4 separate regions of the Homo sapiens genome follow, and all the other regions are linked to region 1. The links come from fine-mapping of genetic effects on gene expression. A gene starts in region 1. Each other region holds a variant in brackets. All regions are shown on one strand. Distances are between the middles of the regions. Region 1 holds the start of MAPK13 (mitogen-activated protein kinase 13). Region 2 overlaps MAPK14 (mitogen-activated protein kinase 14). Region 3 overlaps SLC26A8 (solute carrier family 26 member 8). Region 4 overlaps CPNE5 (copine 5).

Region 1 (5,161 bases):
GATGTGGGCAAGGCCATTTCCTTTGAGGAGCAATTCTGTCAACTCTAGGCCACCGCATAGCCTCGCAGCCAAGAGCAGGGACTCTAGAATCAGGCTGTACTTGCTTTCACCCAGCTCTGCCCTTACCAGCTGTGTTACCTTGGGCAAATTACTTAGCCTCTCTGTACCTCGGGTTCCTCATCTCTAAAATGAGGATAATCATATTACTGACTCACAGGCCTCTTACCAGGATTAAGTGAGTTATATAAAACACTTAATGACGGGCACATGGCAAACACAAGTGTGTATTAAATGACTCTTTTACATCTAATGGGCTGACTCCTCCATTCATTCTCCACACATTTGCTGTTATATTGCCATGTGCCAGAAATGAAAAAGACAGATTGCCTGACTGAAATAATGGCAGGTGTTGTTGTGTGATGATGGCACCCCACCCTCATCTCAGAATGATCTTCCAGGCTGTGCCTGAGGCTGCAGGACTGCCCGGGAGGGCTTGGGGCACAGAGTTTGGGGGCTGCAGACTCCCTAGTGTGGGCCCCCGGCTTGCTGTAAGCCCCTAGCAAATTTCTTTCCTTGTTCAATAGACCTTCTTTTTGACAAAGTGAAGCAGGTGGTCCCCGCCCCTTCCACAGCCCCATGCCTGGGCAAGAGAGGGGTTGGACAAGTCAGGCTGGGCATCCAGAGCCCTTGCAGCCATCTCCTCCCCCCACCTGCCCACCTTGCTCCTCAGAGGCCTTTGTGGTTTGAGCAAAGAATCTCCATCAGGCTGCACAGGCCACCAGACAGGTGGCAAGGGCCCCAATTAGTCATTGTCCTCATAGAGCCTTAGGAAGTCCACAGAAACTGTGTTCAAAACTGCACATTTGGGCCAGGTGCGGTGGCTCACTTCTGTAATCCAAACACTTTGGGAGGCTGAGGTGGGCGGACCACCTGAGGTCAGGAGTTGAAGACCAGCCTGGCCAACATGGTGAAACCCCGTCTCTACTAAAAATACAAAAATTAGCTAGGAGTGGTGGTGTGCACCTGTAGTCCCAGCTACTCAGGAGGCTGAGGCAAGAGAATTGCTTGAACCTGGGAGGCGGAGGTTGCAGTGAGCTGAGATGGCGCCACTGCACTCCAGCCTAGGCAATAGAGTGAGACTCCATGTCAAAAACAAACAAAAATCCTGCACATTTGAACCTGCGTGGATATTTGGTATTATAGAATTAGTGCTATTAATTTTAGGTTTAAGAATGTATTGTGGGCCAGGCGCGGTGGCTCACGCCTGTAATCCCAACACTTTCGGAGGCCGAGGCGGGTGGTTCACGAGGTCAGGAGTTCAAGACCAGCCTGGCCAAGATGGTGAAACCCCATCTCTATTAAAAATACAAAAATTAGCCGGGTTTGGTGGCAGGCACCTACAATCCTAGCTAATCGGGAGGCGGAGGCAGAGAATTGCTTGAACCCGGGAGGCGGAGGTTGCAGTGAGCCGAGATGGCAACTGCACTCCGACAGAGTCTCAAAAAATATATATATATAGTATTGTGGATACGTACTTTTAAAAATCCTTACGTTTTAGAGATACAAAAATATTTATGAATAAAATGATATGACGCCTGGGTTTTGCTTCAAAACGATGGTGGGAGAGGAATGTGGATGAAATAAAATTGATTATGAGTTGTGGTTGCTGGGGAATTGGGGTCACGGGGGTTCATTAGAACCTCCTATCAGATGTGGTTCAGAAGCCTCAGACCTGGGAGCTGGCTAGAAATGCAGAATCTCGGCTCCACCCCAAACCTACTGAGTCAGGATCTGTATTTTAATCAAATAAAATGCCCAGGGGATTCCTGAGCACACTGAAGTGTGAGAAGCGCTGGCTTACTCTGTTCAATTCTTTCCTGCATGTTTGACATTTTCCATAATGAAGAGGTTGTGGGGTTTTGTTCTGCTTTCCTGTGTGTTCACAGTCACAGGGAGCTCTTCCTACGGAGACCGGGGCTGGAGGGAACTGGGAAGCACTGCCTCCCCGCTCCTGCTTGGACCCACCAGCCCCGCCGCTGGCCCGCGCTCGGCTGGGAGGCACCGGGGTCCCGCTGGGCAGCCCCGACCCCGTGCCTGGGCCGCACCTGCCGCAGTGGCTCCGTCGGGCCGGGCGGAAGCGCGGGAGCGCAGGGCTGGACAGGCCCGGGCGTGGCGGCCCCGGCGCACCTGGGCGAGCCGGCAGGTGGGAGCGTAGCAGCCCGGGGCCCCCGCCCTCGCGCGGGGGAGGAGCGGGCGGCGCGGGGCGGGCGCAGCGGGGGTCGGGGCGCTGGGAGCCCGTTGGGCCGCGAACGCAGCCGCCACGCTGGGGCCGCCGAGATCGGGTGCCCGGGATGAGCCTCATCCGGAAAAAGGGCTTCTACAAGCAGGACGTCAACAAGACAGCCTGGGAGCTGCCCAAGACCTACGTGTCCCCGACGCACGTCGGCAGCGGGGCCTATGGCTCCGTGTGGTGAGACCCCTGGGCCGCTGGGGGGCGGGGGGCGGGCGCCAGGCTCTCCCCTTTCCGCCCAGCCCGCCCTGGGCTGGCCCCTCGCCAGCGCCACCTTGACCGCGGACCTCAAGGCCCAGCGCCCTCCCCGGGGCCACCCAGCGGCCATCTCCCTTTTCTCACCGAGTGGCTGAGTGAGGTCTCTGGGGGTTGAGTTGGGACTGGGCCTGGTTCTCCAGGACTGTACACTTGCAAGACCCCAGAGTTCATCGGGCAGATCCTCACTGTTACAGACGAGTACACCGAGGCCCCAAGAGGGGGAGGTGGCTCGCCAAGTTGCAGACAGAGTGAGACTCCCGCCCTGCCGTGGATCCCGTCGCAATGAGACGTTGCTGCCCCTGGCGCTGTGCCCCTCTCTCAGCTCCTGCCTGGCTTCCTACTCCCTGCCCTGCGTCCCGCGGCTCCCCCATATTCTAGGTGGTGGGCCTAGTCCCCTCTCAGCCCAGCTGCCCAGTGGGAGGGGTCAGGGCGGTCTGGGAGATACGGCCCAGGAGGAGAGCCTCGCCTGCTGACCGGCCTGTGCCCGACAGCTCGGCCATCGACAAGCGGTCAGGGGAGAAGGTGGCCATCAAGAAGCTGAGCCGACCCTTTCAGTCCGAGATCTTCGCCAAGCGCGCCTACCGGGAGCTGCTGCTGCTGAAGCACATGCAGCATGAGAACGTAGGTGGTGGCTGCCCCGGGGAGGGGGTGGGGGCTGCCCTGGGGAGTCAGGGGCAGGCGCAGGCGGGGCCTCCCGGTATGGAGAGCTCGGGACAGTCTCCTCCCTGCTCCCCTGACGGTGCCTCTCGCCTCACTATTGAAAGGAGGGGGTGCCGAGACCTTCCCTGCCCACTTTCCAGGAAGAGGTCAAAGGGTATTTTTGGCAGAATGCACTTTGTGAGGTACAGACTGTGTTATCCTACAGAGGAAATTGGCACAGGGGAACTTTGTAATTGGTTCCATGTCTGAGAGCTTGTGGCCAGCTGGGACTAGAATCCTAGTTAGCGTTGTGTCCACGTGACCCTGATAACAATAGCAATATACACATATTGAGCACTTCCTATGTTCTAAGAGCTCTGCATACACTAACTTGTCTAGTCCTCATGATATATGAGTACTACTGCCCCCATGTCACAGACAGGAAACTAAAGCACAGCAAGGCTCACAGATTAGATGGTTAGTCAGTAGCAGAGCTGGGGTTTCAATCTCGGCAGCGAGGCTCCCGGTCTGAGCACATGACCATCAGATTGTCTTGTCTGATAGAAGCAGCTGGGAAAACCAGGGGCCCAGCTCAGGGCCTGGCAGCCAGGCTTTGCTGCAGGATACCTAGATTGGAGGGCAGACATTTCAAAGAATGATTTCAAAATGTTATGTACATTTTAAGCCCATCCTTCTCCAGCAAACCCCTCCCCTATGGCCTCCAGCCAGGGTGATCTTGCCCTTGGCTCTGAACCAGCCCTGTGGCAGGCAAGGATGGATGTGGCTGGAGACCCAAGGTCAGGGGCAGGGAGTTTGCTGGCTGAAAAGCTCCTTCTCTGTTCCCTCCTTTTTCCCTTCCACCCTCCCCTTATGCTTTCCTGCTGCCTAGGTGAGTTGAGAGTGGGTTTGTGTTGCTTGCCCTGACACCAGACTTGACAGCAATGAGCACACATCATTCTCCCCACCTTCCCTTCTCCCCAGCCTGACTCTCTGTCATGATTTATTGCAAACTCCCTCCAAATCCAGGGGATTCCTCTAGGCCTCTGCCCTTTTTACTGCTTCCAAGAAGGTTGGAGACATGCCTCCTGCTGGAGGTGGTGTATTAGGAAAGGGTGGATGGCCCTGTGCATGGCCAGGGCCCAGGAGGAGGTGGGAGGAGAAGGTAGCGTCTGTCTAGCCCTCACAGGTGACTTCTTCCCCAGGTCATTGGGCTCCTGGATGTCTTCACCCCAGCCTCCTCCCTGCGCAACTTCTATGACTTGTGAGTTGGGCTGCACTGGGTTCTGGGGCATTTGCAGGCCTTACATGCCGCTGGGGAGCAAGGTGGGGGAGGGTCTAGGGTTTCTATTCCGGGTGTGGCGGGGAGAGCCTCCTTCCCTGGCAGTCCTGTGCCTTTGCCTGTCAAGTGTGATTCTCTCTGGAAAGATGCTTTTAGCCAAAGGCAGGCAGGAAGAGGCAGGAAGGACTTTGTGGGGTGCTTGCCTGGCAGGGGGCAGTCTGCACAGCTGCTTTGCTTTTTACCCAGCTTTAACACCATGAAGACACATCTGCCAGTCCTCACAGGGTTAGCACCAACTCACCTTTCCTGGGGACACAGATGTGAGTCTGGACCTTGGAGCTCTTTCTAGCATGAAGCAAGGATTAAGAAGCCTTGGCTGCCTCTGGCTGATGGGGGTGTTTGACAGAATGGCAGAAAACCAGAATATTTAGCTGCAAAATGTATAGCTTTGCCTGTGCAGTGTCTGAATGAGACTGGACTATTTGGACAAGATGGAGAAGTCAGTGTGGCACGTGGAGGCCAGCAGCTGGCTTGGTCAAGCTGAATCTGGACTGACCCTACAGGCAGCCTCAAGACCTGGGGACTTTGAGCCGGGAGGTGATATGTTCAGATGGGATTTGGGGGATGCACACTGGCAGCAGCAAGAAAGGAGTAGGAAGCAGCTCGGAGGCAGAGGGGGAGAGCCTGGAGGTCAG
Region 2 (5,161 bases), 44 kb before region 1:
ACATGAGAACTTCATAATGCAACCACAAGTATCAATAGCCAAATAGACCAAGTGGAGGAAAGAATTTCAGAGCTTGAAGACTATCTTGCTGACAAGATAAGAGAAGAATGAAAGGAAATGAACAAAACTTTTGAGAACTATGGGATTATTTAAAAAGACTGAACCTGCGAATGATAGGGGTACCTAAAAGAATTGGGGAGAATGGAAACAAGTTGGAAAACACACTTCAGGATATCAGCCAGGAGAACTTCCCCAACCTAGCAAGACAGGCCAGCATTCAAATCAGGAAATCCCTAGAGAACCCCAGTAAGCTACCCCATGAGAAGATCAACCCCAAGATACATAATCATCAGATTCTCCAAGGTTGAAATGAAGGAAAAAATACTAAGGGCAGCCAGAGAGAAAGGCTAGGTCACCTACAAAGGGAAGCCCATCAGGCTAAGAGTGGACCTCAGCAAAAACCCTACAAGCCAGAAGAGATTCGGGGCCAATATTCAACATTCTTAAAGAATTTCCAACCCAAAGTTTCATATCTGGCCAAACTAAGCTTCATAGTCAAAGAAGAAATAAAATCCTTTTTAGACAAGCAAATGCTGAGGGAATTCGTCACCACCAGGCCTGTCTTGCAAGAGCTCCTGAAGGAAGCACTAAATATGGAAAGGAAAAACTTACTGGCCACTACAGAAACACACTGTTTTCTTTTACCAGTAACACTATGAAGCAGTTACCTCAACAAGTCTGCAAAATAACCAGCTAGCATCATGATGATAGGATCAAATTCACACATAAAAAATATTAACCTTAAATGTAAGTGGGCTAAATGCCCCAATTAAAAAACACAGAACGGCAAGCTGGATAAAGAATCACGACCCATCAGTATGCTGTTGTATTCAAGAGACCCATCTAACATGCAAAGACATACAAAGGCTCAGAATAAAGGGATGGAGGAAAATTTACCAAGCAAATGGAAAGCAGAAAAAAGCAGGGGTTGCAATCCTATTTTCTGACAAAACAGACTTTGAACCAGCAAATATCAAAAAAGACAAGGGCATTACATAGTGGTAAAGGGCTCAATTCAACAAGAAAAGCTAACTATCCTAAATATATATGCACCTAATACAGGAGCACCCAGATTTATAAACCAAGTTCTTAGAGACCTACACAGAGACTTAGACTCCCATACAATAATAGTGTGAGACTTTAATACCCCACTGTCAATATTAGACAGATCATCAAGCAGAAAATTAACAAGGATATTCAGGACTTGAACTCAGCTCTGGACCTGATAGATAGCTACAGAACTCTCTATACAGAAACAACAGAATATACATTCTTCTTAGCAGCACATCGCACTTAGGCTAAAATTGATCACATAATTGGAAGTAAAACACTCCTCAGTAACTGCAAAAGAACTGAAAATATAACACACAGCCTCTCACACCACAGCACAATCAAATTAGAACTAAGATTAAGAAACTCACTCAAAACCACACAATTACGTGGAAATTGGACAACCTGCTCCTGAATGACTCCTGGATAAATAATGAAATTAAGGCGGAAATCAGAAGTTCTTTGAAACCAATGAGAACAAAGAGAACATACCAGAATCTCTGGGACACAGCTAAAGCAGTGTTAAGAGGGAAGTTTATAGCACTAAATGCCCACATCAAAAAGCTAGAAAGATCTCAAATTGACACCCTAACATCACAACTAAAAGAACTAGGGAACCAAGACCAAACAAACCCTAAAGCTAGCAGAGGACAAGAAATAACCAAGATCAGAGTGGAACTGAAGGAGATAGAGACAGGAAAAACCCTTCCAAAAATATCAGTGACTCCCAAGATCTGGTATTTTGAAAAACATAAAATAAAATAAAATAGACTCCTAGCTAGAGTAATGAAGAAAGAAGAATCAAATAGACACAATAAAAATGATAAAGGGGGTATCACCACTGACCCTGCAGAAATATGAACAACTATCAGAGAATACTATAAACACCTCTATGCAAATAAACTAGAAAATCTAGAAGAAATGGATGAATTCCTGGACACATATGACCTCCCAAGACTGAACCAGGAAAACGTTGAATCTACCAATAACAAGTTCTCAAATTGAGGCAGTAATAAATAGCCTACCAAGCAAGAAAAGCCCAGGACCAGACAGATTACAGCCAAATTCTACCAGAGGTACAAAGAAGAGCTGGTACCATTTCTTCTGAAACTATTCCAAACATACAAAAGGAGGGACTCCCCTATAACTCATTTTATGAGGCCAGTATTATCCCAATACCAAAGCCTGCCAGAAATACAACAGAAAAAGAAAACTTAAGGCCAATATCCCTGATGAACATCGATGCAAAAATCCTCAGTAAAATACTGGCAAACCAAATCCAGCAGCATGTCAAAAGCTTATCCATCCACCACGGTCAAGTCAGCTTCATCCCTGGGATGCAAGGCTGTTTTAACATATGCAAATCAATAAACATAATTGATCACATAAACAGAACTAAAGGCAAAAACCACATGATTATCTCAATGGATGCAGAAAAGGCCTTTAATAAAATTCAACATCCCTTCATGTTAAAAACTCTCAGTAAACTAGGTGTTGATGGAACATACCTCAAAATAAGCCATGTAAGACAAACCCACAGCCAGTATCTTACTGAATAGGCAAAAGCTGGAAGTATTCCCCTTCAAAACTGGCACAAGGATGCCCTCTTTCCCTACTCCTATTCAACATAGTATTGGAAATTCTGGCCAGGGCAATCAGGCAAAAGAAAGAAAGAAAGGGTATTCAAATAGGAAGAGAGGAAGTAAAACTCTGTTTGCAGGTGACATGATCCTATATCTAGAAAACCTTGTTGTCTCAGCCCAAAAGCTTCTTAAGCTGATAAGCAACTTCAGCAAAGTCT[C/G]GGGATACAAAATCAAAGTGCAAAAATCACAACTATTCCTATACACCAACAGTAGGCAAGCAGAGAGCCAAATCATGAATGAACTCTTATTCACAACTGCTAAAAGAGAATAAAATACCCAGAACTATAGCTATTAATAACAAGGGAAGTGAAGGACCTCTTCAAGGAGAACTACAAACCACTGCTGAAGGAAATCAGAGAGGACACAAACAAATGGAAAAACATTCTGTGCTCATGGATAGGAAGAATCAATATCATGAAAATGGCCATATTGCCCAAAGTAATTTATAAATTTAATGCTATTCCCATTAAACTACTGTTGACATTCTTCACAGAATTAGAAAAAAACTTTAAAATTCATATGGAACCAAAAAAGAGTCCATATAGCCCAAACAATTCTAAGCAAAAAGAACAAACCTGGAGGCATCACACTACCTGACTTCAAACTATACTACGAGGCTACAGTAATCAAAACAGCATGGTACTAGTACAAAAACAGACCAATGGAACAGAATAGAGATCTCAGAAATAAAACTGCACATCTACAACCATCTGATCTTCAACAAACCTGACAAAACGAGCAATGGGGAAAGGATTCCCTATTTAATAAATGGTGCTGGGAGAACTGGCTAGCCATGTGCAGAAAATTGAAACTGGACCCCTTCCTTACACCTTATACAAAAATTAACTCAAGATGGATTAAAGACTTAAATGTAGAACCCAAAACGATAAAAACCCTAGAAGAAAATCTAGGCAATATCATTAAGGACATAGACATGGGCAAAAATTTCATGATGAAAACATCAAAAGCAATGGCAACAAAAGCAGAAACTGACAAATGGGCTTCTGCACAGCAAAAGAAACTATCGTCAGAGTGAACAGACAACCTACAGAATGGGAGACAGTTTTTGCAATCTATCCATCTGACAAAAGTCTAATATCCAGAATCTACAAGGAATTTAAACAAATTTACAAGGAAAAAACCCATTAAAAAGTTGGCAAAGGGCCAGGCACAGTGACTCATGCCTGTAATCCCAGCACTTTGGGAGGCTGAGGCAGGTGGATCACGAGGTCAGGAGATCGAGATCATCCTGACTAATTTGGCGAAACCCCATCTCTACTAAAAATGCAAAAAATTAGCCAGGCATGGTGGTGTGCGCCTGTAGTCCCAGCTACTCAGGAGGCTGGGGCAGGAGAATGACGTGAACCCAGGAGGCGGAGCTGGCAGTGAGCCGAGATCACACCACTGCACTCCAGCCTGGGCGACAGAGCGAGACTCCGTCTCAAAAAAAAAAAAAAAATATTGGCAAAGGACATGAACAAACACTTCTCAAAAGAAGACATTTATACAGCCAACAAACATGAAAAAAAGCTCAGTGTCACTGACCATTAGAGAAATGCAAATGAAAACCACAATGAGATACTGTCTCATGCTAGTCAGAATGGTGATTATTAAAAAGTCAAGAAACAACAGATGCTGGTGAGGCTATGGAGAAATATGAACACTTTTACACCGTTGGTAGGAATGTAAATTAGTTCAACCATTGTGGAAGACTGGTGAAATCCTCAAAGACCTAGAACCAGAAATAACATTTGACCCAGCAATCCCATTACTGGGTATATACCCAAAGGAATATAAATCATTCTGTTACAAAGATACATGCATGTGTATGTTGATTGCAGCAGTATTCAGAATAGCAAAGACATGGAATCAACCCAAATGCCCATCAGTGATGGACTGGATAAAAAAACATGGTACATATACACCATGGAATACTATACACCCATAAAAATGAATGAGATTGTGCCCTTTGCGGGGACACTGATGGAGCTTGAAGCCATTTTCCTCAGAAAGCCAAACACCACATGTTCTCACAAGTGGGAGCTGAACAATGAGAACACATGGACACATGGAGGAGAACAACACACGCTGGGGCCTGTTGGTGGGGTGGGGGTCAGGCGGAGGGAACGCATCAGGATAAATAGCTAAGGCATGCGGGGCTTAACACCTAGGTGATGGATTGATAGGTGGAGCAAACCACGATGGCACATATTTACCTATGTAACAAACCTGCACATCCTGCACTTGTATCTCAGAACTTTAATTTAATTTTAAAAAAATATAAGAAATACTCATTTTTGTCTTAAAGCCAATAATGTGTTATCAGATTAGAAATTATTCTTGTTTGTGACTTTGCAGAACCCTTCCATCTGGCCTAATGATAGCATTATTATTTTTTAAAGAATGAA
Region 3 (5,161 bases), 140 kb before region 1:
CAATATCTTAAAGGCCAAATTTTAATGTATATCATGATAGTTTAAAAGGCTGAGCTGAAATGGTTAGTCAACTGAAAGCATGGTCTAACTGGCATCTGCAATTAATCAAGACCCTAATTCTCCAATAAAGGAAAATATTTCTAGTACCCTCTTGACTGAGCTGCCTATAGGCTGTGTCTCCTTTCAGAAGGGGCGGGAGTCTCCCTACTGAGCTCCACTTTTCTTTGGAGGCAAGAGGAGTGGCATTTGTAACTCTGGGTAAGAGTTGAAATTACTCACATAGAAGAAGGAGATGGGACCGGCATGGAAACTAATCATAATCCCAAAGATGAAAGTCAGCTGGGACAGCATGATATGAAGTGCCACAGCAGCCAGGTAAGCACTCATTGCAGACTCCGGAAGGTAAGTGGCAATGAAGCCCAAACCCAATACGCCCATTATTAGCTGCAGAGAAGAGAAAACCAGAGTGGGGTAGAATGTCTTCAATCCAGCAATGGCACCAATGGCACTCTCCAGGAAAAGAAGGGTTTCCAATAGAAAAGTTAAGATAGGCCCCTTTGGTAACTCTTGTAACTCTCTTTCCCTAATGAACAGAAGTTGATAACACGGGTCCTTGTATGTTGATCAGAGGCTCCCAACAAGTGCTAGCTCACACTACTCCTTTCCTTCTTTGTGAGCAGTCAGCTCACTTAAGTTCTTGCCCTAGAATCTACTGCTCTCTAGGTTGACTTGGGGAAAACAGGGACAAGGTGATCAGAACAAGCCTTTGCCTATTTATTTATTTATGAGACAGGATCTCACTCTGTTGCCCAGGCCGGAGTGCAGTGGTGCAATCATAGCTCACTGTAACCTCAAACTCCTGGGCACAAGGGATTCTCTGCTTCAACTTCCCAAATAGCTGGGACTACAGATGCTCACACTGGGCATTTTTTTTTTTTTTTTTTTTGATAGAGATTGGAGGGGGGGGTCTTGCTATATTACCTAGGCTGGTCTCGAACTCCTGACCTCAAGTGATTCTCCTGTTTTGGCCTCCCAAAACCCTGGGATTACAGGCATGAACGCACTGTGCCTGGCCTGCCTTTGCCTTTTTAAACCTCTTTCATTAGAAGCTTTGATAGCCCTTTTCAGGAGATGTTAACATTCCTCTGAGGAATGCAGCTTTTCACAAAGGAGAAGAGAATTTCAAAACAGTGGGATCGAGCTCAAACTTCTTGGCCTTTGACTCTTATCTTTACTGAGAATAATTAAATTGAATTTATTTATGTTTTCAGGATTATGCATATCCTGAAGGAAAATAAAAAAGGTATTTTACATGTCAATATGCATATGTAAAATTTATGTTATATAGTATATAATAAAATTTTATACACACAGGATCTAAAAGGATAGACCTCAAATGATTAACAGGAATTACCTTTGGGGAATGGGGTTAGATGTTGGGGACAATATTTGATAATTTATACACTTTTTTACTATTTGAGATGTTCGTCTTTTATAATAAAAACCACAATTAGGTTGGGTGTGGTGGCTCATGCCTGTAATCTCAGCACTTTGGGAGGCTCAAGTGGGAGGGTCGCTTGAGCTCAGGAATTTGAGATGAGCCTGGGCAACATGGCGACACTTTGTCTCTACAACAAGAAAAATAAAAAACAAAAAGAGGGTAGGTTAAGAAAACTGGCACAGCCCAATGAAGACTTTTCAGTAAGCAGGGTGGAAAGGAGCAAAACAGAAGTCTTAAAGCTTACAATCATCACTTCACTCTCCACTCCACTAAAAGCTCTCAGAAAACAAACAAATTTGGAACAATAAATCATTTTGCTTTAACAGGTTTTTGTTTCAAAGCTTTCAATCAGCCCGGCACTGTGTCTCCCTTTTTTTTTCTTTTCTTTTTTTTTTTTTTTTGAGACGGAGTCTTGCTCTGTCGCCCAGGCTGGAGTGCAGTGGCGTGATCTCGACTCACTGCAATCTC[C/T]ACCTCCCAGGTTCACGCCATTCTCCTGCCTCAGTCTCCCGAGTAGCTGGGACTACAGGCGCCCGCCACCAAGCCCGGCTAATTTTTTGTATTTTTAGTAGAGACAGGGTTTCACCGTGTTAGCCAGGATGGTCTCGATCTCCTGACCTTGTGATCCGCCCGCCTCGGCCTCTCAAAGTGCTGGGATTACAGGCGTGAGCCACTGCGCCCTGCCAACTGTCTCTCCCTTAATCTCCTGTCATTGCCGCCCAATGTTCTATTTTACTCTAGTCAGGCCAGTCTGCTTCCTATTTCTTGCGTGACTGGCTGACTCCTACTTCTGTGCTTATGCATGAGCCCCTCTTTTTTCCATCTCTGCCAATCCATGTGCATCATCTCTTTTTTTTTTTTTTTTGAGACGGAGTCTTGCTCTGTCACCCAGGCTGGAGTGCAGTGGTACAATCTTGGCTCACTGCAACCTGTGCCTCCCAGGTTCAGGTGATTCTCCCACCTCAGCCTCCCGAGTAGCTGGGATTACAGGTGCCCAGCACCACGCCTGGCTAATTTTTGTATTTTTAAGTAGAGACAGGGTTTCGCCAAGTTGGCCAGGCTGGTCTTGAACTCCTGACCTCAAGTGATCCACCCGCTTTGGTCTCCCAAAGTGCCGGAATTACAGGCGTGAGCCACTGTGGCTGGCCTGCATCATCTTTCAAGAGCTCAGTAAAATTCCTCTCCTTTAAGGAGTGTGGTGAAAAAAGCATGGTTCCTGGGCTTGGAGAATCTGGCTTCAGTCCTGGCCCAGCCACTCATTGGCTGTGTAAGTGTGGGCAAGTTAACTCTTTGAACCTCAGTTTCCTCATCTATAAAATGTGAATAATATTCAATGTAAAGTGTTTTGAATAGATTAAATTTCATCACACATGTAAAATACCTAGCTCAGATGTGAAAATAGTGACAAATATGTATCACTCATATATGCAAATATATGTTACTCTTCTTCATACCATCCCTGCCTTCCATCTTGTAAATGGCAAAAATCTGCAATTGCCTTAGAACTCTTTCTTGCCCACTGTAATATGGCATCACGTTCAGTGTTAACATAATATTCTAGGCAGCCACTGTTAATCAGTCAGGGTTGGCCTGTGAGATGAAACCTATCTGCCATTCTTATAGGAAGCCAGTACTAAATGTTGAATGAATGAAAGGGAGGGCTCAATAAATAGTTGTTTCCTTCCCAGATAACTTCGACTCAACTAGAGGTTATTTTTTAACTTCATGTTCTTTTGGCACTAAACTCTTATATGAATATTATTTTATGCTTAAGATTTCCTAGAGCACAGATTCTACAATCAGACAACCCTAAAACTGAATCCCAGTTTGGTGTCTTAGCTATGTGACCTTGGGCAATTTTCTTAACCTCTCTATGCCCTTGTTTTCTTAAAATAAGGACCATAGTAGTGTGCTACAGGCGTGCACCACCACACCCAGCTATTTTTTTTTTTTATTTTGTTTTGTAGAGACAGAGTTTGCCTATGTTGCCCAGGCTGGTCTCAAACTCCTGGCCCCAAGCAATCCTCCTGCTTCAGTCTCCCAAAGTGCTGGGATTACAGATGTGAGCCACCATGCCCAGCCCTCTTCCTTTTTTAGATGAAAAAAGCTGAGGCTTGAAGGAGAAGAGAAAGCATGCATGAGGCCCCTTGATAATTAAAAGGTTGCTTGTGTATTTTGTCTTATCCCACAAGATTAAACTTTTTAACCACAGGAAACTATATATTGTTTTTTAAATTTTTGGTCTCTGTTAAAGTACCAAATTCATTTCTCTGTGCCCACTAATTATAACTTATTGATGCTTACTATGTGACAAGCTCTAGGCTAAATACTTTGCATGCATTTTTTTCACTAAATCCTCCTAAGAACCCTGCAAAACAAATATTATTCCTGCTTTATACATGAGGAAACTGAGGCCCACCAAGGTAAAATAATTTACCAAAATTCACACAGCTCATAGTGTCAGGGCTGGAGTCTGCCCACTTTGATAGCCTGCCTTTGTAGGTACCCAATAAATCTTTACTTAGTGAAAGACAGTCCCAGGGGAGATCAGTGAAAATCAACTAGAGACTGGGTTAGTTGAGAAAAAAGAGAAATAAGCCTGGAGGATGTGACTAGTTCAGTAGATGAACTTTTGGTGATAGACTCTCAGAGGAAATTAAAGACAGAGCCAAAATAAGTTTTGAGATTTTAATGAGTCATTCATATTATTGTCCTTTAGCTGTGGTCCTTGTCAATGCAGAAAAAGGATTCCAGATCTGGCTCTAAAGCTTACTAACCCAAAGATAGTGTGTGAGCCTGTGAGGCCATCATTATTTTTATTATTATTATTATTTTGGAGACAGGGTCTCGCTGTGCCACCCAGGCTGGAGTGCAGTGGCATGATCACAGCTTACTGCAGCCTCAACCTCCTGGGCTCAAGTGATCCTCCCACCTCAGCCTCCTGAGTAACTGGGACTACAGGCACATGCTACCATGCCCAGCTAAATGAGTCCATTCTTGTTGATAGAATATAAAGCAACTTTTGGCTGGGTGCAGTGGCTCACACCTATAATCCCAACAGTTTGGGAGGCCGAGGTGGGTGGATCACCCGAGGTCAGGAGTTCAAGACCAGCCTGGCTAACATGGTGAAACCCCTTCTCTACTAAAAATATAAAAATGTGCTGGGTGTGGTGGCATGCACCTGTAATCCCAGCTACTTGGGAGGCTGAGGCAGGAGAATCACTTGAACCTGGGAGGCGGAGATTGCAGTGAGCCACGATTGTCCCATTGCACTACAGCCTGGGCAACAAGAGCAAAACTCCATCTAAAAAAAAAAAAAGAATATGAAGCAATTTTTGAAAAGGTAAGATCAGGAGTGGAGCTCTGGACTAAGAGTCCCCAGACCCCTGGGGCCACCGACCAGTACTGGTACTGGTTTGTGGCCTGTTAGGAACCGGGTGCTGCACAGCAGGAGGTGAGCAGCAGGCAAGCAAGCATCACTGCCTGAGCTCTCCACCTTCTGTCAGATCAGCCACAGCATTAGATTCTCAGGGAAGCACAAACCCTATTGTGAACTGCACATGCGAGGAATCTAGGTTGCATGCTCCTTATGAGAATCAAATGCCAGGTCATCTGAGGTGGAACAGTTTCATCCCAAAACCACCACCCTCCCTGGCCCCGACC
Region 4 (5,161 bases), 670 kb after region 1:
CCCAGGGAGATAGAATCCTCCACGCCAGCCTCCTCCGCCCCATGTTTCTCCATCTGTTCCTCTCTTTGCCTCTGAGTCCTTCTTCTATTTCCGATCCTTCTTTCCCTCCTCTCCAGCCCCAACCTGCTCCCACCTTCTTGGCCTTCCTTTCTCTCTCTCCCTCCCTCCCTGTCTTTGTATCTCTGTCTGACTCCTGCTGCCTCCCCAGTTGCTGCTTCTCTACTCTCCAGGTGAATTAGCATCCATGCTCTCCCTGGGCTGTGAGCATCCCCGGGCCCGCCGGAGGCCCCTTCCCCACCTGCAGCTGGTCCAGTGGCATATCCAGCTGCTGCAACCTCAATTCCTGAGAGCTCTCAGGGAAGGCCAGGGGAGCTCTGCTTACCCCAACAAAATGCCCTTCTGCAGAGGCCCCTCCAGGCAGAGGTTCCCTGCCCTGCACACCCCCACCTCCAGCCCCAGTGGGCGAGTGGGCGTGAGAAAGAAGCCAGGGTGGGAACTCCCCAACCGGGAAAGAAGGGGAGGGAAGGAGGGGGAGGCTCTGCGTTGGCCACATTTGCATGAGGCCAGCCGAAGCCAGATGGTCAGGGTGGTGGAGTGAGGCTGGCCCACCGCAGCTGGCGAGCAAACGAGCAAACGTGAAAAGTGGGGATTCAGCTGGATCTACTCTGTGGTGAGGAGGAGGCGGACATCCAGCAGCCAAAACAAGGGAGGGGAACAGGGGGGAAAGGATAAAGACAGGGGAGGAAAGAGGGGGAGAGAAGGGTGGGGATTGGGGGCCTAGAGAAGCCAGGCCAGGGAGAGAGGAAGGGAACAGAGAGTGCCCAGCCCCGCTATTCATAGACAACATCCCCCACCTGTAAGCCCCACCCTCTCCCTGAAGTCCCAGGAGCCACTGGGGCTTGAGATGCCCAAGCTCTAGCTTGGATGGGGGAGGGGCCCACTGCCGAGTGGGGGCCTCTGTTCAGGGCCCAAAGAGCCTGGGTGCCTAAGGAGGAACCCAGGACTCTCTGTCCCCGGATCAGGGCCAAATTCGCAGTGATGGGAGCAGGGACGAGGCCCAGACTCTGAGGCCCCCTTTGCAGAGCTGGCTGAATGTCTAAGGACTCCAGGGCCAGAGATGTCTGGCAACGTACCCGTTGGACACAGCTGGCATGGGTTTGCCCGTCCTGGAATTCAGGCTGAATGCGCCTATCCTGTGGAGAGAGAGGGGGAGAGAGAGCATGCCATGAGCTGAGTACCCCCACCCAGACAGGCCAGCGCACTTGGCATCCAGATGCTTGGAGACAAGCGGCTGCTCTGGAAGTCATTAAAACAGGATCAAAGCCACAGGCCAGAGCAAGTGGAGTCCTTCTTCTGGGCAAATTCCTCTCCTTCAGTGGTTCTCAAGGTGGGATGCCCAGACCAGCAGCACCAGCATGTCCTGGGAATGTTATTAATAGGAATGTAAATTCCCAGGCCGAGCCCATACCCACAGGATCAGGAACTCTGCGGGGTGGAGCCCAGCAATCTTTGGTGACACTGGTACCTGCTGCAGCTTGGGAACCCCTGTTCTCCCTTTCCAGACTCCGCATCCAGACTGCAAGATGGGGAGACTGCTGGAAGAATCACATGAGATCATGATATGGGCTGAACTGTATCCCCCAAAATTCATGTATTGAAATCTTAATCTCCAGGTCCTCAGAATGTGACTATATTTGGAAATAGAGTCTTTTTTATTTTTTTATTTTCATTTTTATTTTTGAAACAGAGTCTCGCTCTGTCACCCAGGCTGGAGTGCAGTGGCGTGATCTCGGCTCACCGCAACCTCCACCTACCAGGTTCAAGTGATTATCCTGCCTCAGCCTCCCAGGTAGCTGGGACTACAGGCACGCACCACCATGCCCGGCTAATTTTTGTATTTTTAGTAGAGACGAGGTTTCACCATGTTGGCCAGGATGGTCTCGAACTCCTGACCTCAGGTGATCTGCCCACCTTGGCCTCCCAAAGTGATTGGATTACAGGCGTGAGCCAC[C/T]ATGCCCAGCCTGGAGATAGGGTCTTTAAGGAGGTAATTAAGGTAAAATGAGGTCATGGCAGTGGACCCTAATCCAATGGCTGGTGTCCTCATATGAAGAGGTGACTAGGACACAGAGGTGCACAGAGAGATGACAATCTGAAGACACAGAGATGAAAAAGAAGACAGCCATCCTCAGAAGACATGAACTCTGTTGACATCTTGATCTCCGACGTCTAGCCGCCAGAATTGTGAGAAAATCAATTTTTCTTATTTAAGCCACTCAGTTTGTGGTATTTGCCACAATGGTCCCAGCGAACTAACACAGATTTCACAAGCAAAACACTGACCCTCATGCCTGGCCCAAAATAGATGCCCAGTAAACAGGAGCTGTTCACAGGGTTTAGTCAGGAAGACAACTAAACTAAGATATGTGAAATCTTCGATGGGGTAAAAGGTCCACCTCCTCCTCCAACATTGCCGTCAACCTCTGTATTTTATTTTATTTTATTTTATTTTTGAGATGGAATCTCGTTCTGTCACCCAGGCTAGAGTGCAGTGGTGTAATCTCAGCTCACTGCAACCTCCGCCTCCTGGGTTCAAGCGATTCTCCTGCCTCAGCCTCCCTAGTAGCTGGGACTACAGGCATGTGCCACCACGCCAGGCTAATTTTTGTATTTTTAGTAGAGACAAGGTTTCTCCATGTTGGTCAGGCTGGTCTCAAACTCCCGACCTCAGGTGATCCACCCGCCTCGGCCTCCCACAGTGCTGGGATTACAGGCATGAGCTACTGAGCCCTGCCAACCTCTATATTTTAGAACTTGCTTGTCCTTTAAGGCTCAGTTTCAAAAGCCATCTCCATAGGAAGTCTCCCTCAATACTCCCCCACCCCCAGAGGGTGTTTCCTGTCACCAACGGTGGACCAGGTGAGATCAGGAAGGAAACAGACCCAAATGACTAGTGGCTTTGGACCCAGGCAGCTGGGAGTTGGGAAGCACAGACACCCTCCCTCATAGGGCATCTCCATCCTGGCAACCCAGGTAAAGCCACGGGTGGGGGTGCTGCTGGAAAGAGCAGATGCTAATGGGTATGCTACACTCAGCACATGGTTAACACTGAAGTGGGCACAGGGGCAGATGTTCCTAGAGAAAGAATATAAAATTACGAATGAAAACTGTTAGAAATAAGTCCTAAGAGGGAGGGGCCTAGCAAATATGAATGTGAATTTTGTATGCTTTTTTGCAAGAGGCCCTCAAATTCTATAAGCTATAGAGACCCCCAAAACAGGGGTTTTCCCCCATTCTCAATAAATGATAGCTATTTTCACTGTTTTCTAGGAACCCAGAGATGAGACCTTTTGGGGGCCAAGGAAACATTTCCGGGGGCCCTGAAGTTATCATGAGTTACTGGGGGTCACGGGCAAGGATCTGGAAGAGAGACCACACACACACACATTGCAGTTATTATTATTATTATTATTTTGAGACAGAGTCTCACTCTGTTGCCCAGGTTGGAGTACAGTAGCCCAATCTCGGCTCACTGCAACCTCCTGGGTTCAAGTGATTCTCGTGCCTCAGCCTCCAGAGTAGCTGGGACTACAGGTGTGCACCACCACACCCAGCTAATTTTTTTGTATTTTTAGTAGAGACAGGGTTGCACCATGTTGGCCAAGCTGGTCTCGAACTCCTGAGCTCAGGCGATCCATCGCCTTGGCCTCCCAAAGTGCTGAGATTACAGGCGTGAGCCACCGTGCCCGGTTCACACTGCAGTTATTGATCATGGTGAGGGGACAGCGTCCAGTGGGAACTTGGCAGAAGATCTGATGATCTCCCTTTCCCGGCCGCTTTGCCCTGTGGCCTGGATGCCTGTCCCAGTCTGCCCTCTCTTTCCTGGGCCCTGCCCACGAGTGTCAACCTAAAATAATCAAAAGCCTCGGGATCCAGTTAAATTAGTTTATTTAAATGCAAAGTGTGAGGGTGGCCGTCCAGAGAAATATGGACACCAAAGAATGGTGACCAGTGTTCCCCAGTGTGGGGAAAGGTAAGAATCGTTTATACAGGCAAGGGCCCTGCCCCTGGTACTTCCTGAGAAATAGGGACAAGAGAGGTCACCCTCACCACACGGCCAGCCCTGGCTGGTCCCTGAAGACATCATCAGGCTCCACTGTGAGAAGCCTTGGATTCCTCATCCCAGAGCCCGCTTCAGAGTAACAGCTTTTCCCTAAAAGCAAATTAAGGTCAGGGACCATCAGGGACAGGATGGGACGGGAGGAGCCTCACTGTACCCAGCTCTGGCCTACAAGCTGTGAACAATCTTAGGAATATGCTATGTGAGTAGAGCCCTGGGTTCAAATCCCAGCTCCCAGCTCTCCCTCTTCCTAGCTGTGTGTCCTTGGGCAAGTCACTTCCCCTCTCTGGGCTTCAGTTTCTTCTTCCACACTATGATAGGGGTCAGGGTGGGAATAGACTATATGGTGTCTAGTCTATTTCCTCCTGGGCCTTCCCAGGAGATGGGACTCTAATAACCCATCCTGGGTTCCCCTGAAATACCTGGATTAGAAGCCCTGTGAGAGCAGTGAGGCATGGGGTCTCTTTATTCCTAATAACCCTGCAGATGCCAGTCATAGCCAGCTGACTGCTTTGTCCCCATCCTGAGCCAGCCCCCAGCAGAATGGGCGGGAAGTTGGCCTACCACTGGGAAAGCAACCCAGACACTCACGTGAGGGGCTTTTCCAGGCGGCTCCCAGGGGACCCCACAATCTCTCCAAGGGTGCAGAAGGCCTGGCCCAGGAAATCCTGCATATCCAGGGAACAGAAGAGACCAGTGTCACCCACTCTGCTCACAGCTATCCCACCTCCCCCATCGCCCAATTCCTGGAAGCGTGAGGGCCCTTAAATGACAGGACGCAGCGTCGGACACACATTCCATCACAGCAAAGCCCCAGGCTCACCCAGAGGATGGCATTTCAGAAACTATGGAATTGCTGAGCAGTTACTGGCAGAACTCACGTGTTTGGATAAATCAGGACTCTTAGAGTCAACGTCGTATCTGCAGGGAACACAGAGAAACGATGAAGGCAGCTGCGGACGTTCTGCCCAATCCTGCCTGGGTTCTCAAGTTGAGTCAGGGCCCCTGTCCCCCAAAAAACAGGTCCCAACACAGTGAATATTT

Evidence for each region.
Region 2: its variant is fine-mapped to the expression of MAPK13 in whole blood (TOPMed, PIP above 0.99).
Region 3: its variant is fine-mapped to the expression of MAPK13 in whole blood (TOPMed, PIP 0.92).
Region 4: its variant is fine-mapped to the expression of MAPK13 in testis (GTEx, PIP 0.97).

What each region holds. Positions count from the first base shown.
Region 1 is chr6:36,128,232-36,133,392 of GRCh38, forward strand. MAPK13 (mitogen-activated protein kinase 13) reads left to right here and starts at 2,282. Exons shown (of 12, transcript NM_002754.5): 1 at 2,282-2,470; 2 at 3,040-3,169; 3 at 4,390-4,448. The coding sequence starts at 2,352. RefSeq lists silencers at 2,178-2,427, 2,468-2,537, 3,178-3,287 and enhancers at 2,433-3,036, 2,928-3,047, 3,758-4,007.
Region 2 is chr6:36,084,526-36,089,686 of GRCh38, forward strand. The region is part of intron 8 of MAPK14 (mitogen-activated protein kinase 14); the gene reads left to right. Among named protein-coding and RNA genes, the nearest start is that of MAPK13, 43 kb to the right of the region's middle. The variant C/G (reference allele first, on the strand shown) is at 2,912.
Region 3 is chr6:35,992,231-35,997,391 of GRCh38, forward strand. It overlaps SLC26A8 (solute carrier family 26 member 8), which reads right to left. Exons shown (of 20, transcript NM_052961.4): 6 at 280-444. LOC105375035 (a long non-coding RNA gene) reads left to right here. Exons shown (of 7, transcript XR_926747.3): 7 at 188-351. Among named protein-coding and RNA genes, the nearest start is that of SLC26A8, 30 kb to the right of the region's middle. RefSeq lists an enhancer at 870-1,383. The variant C/T (reference allele first, on the strand shown) is at 1,970.
Region 4 is chr6:36,793,457-36,798,617 of GRCh38, forward strand. CPNE5 (copine 5) reads right to left here. Exons shown (of 21, transcript NM_020939.2): 5 at 4,999-5,038; 6 at 4,709-4,785; 7 at 1,134-1,193. Among named protein-coding and RNA genes, the nearest start is that of CPNE5, 43 kb to the right of the region's middle. RefSeq lists enhancers at 1-667, 668-1,332. The variant C/T (reference allele first, on the strand shown) is at 2,012.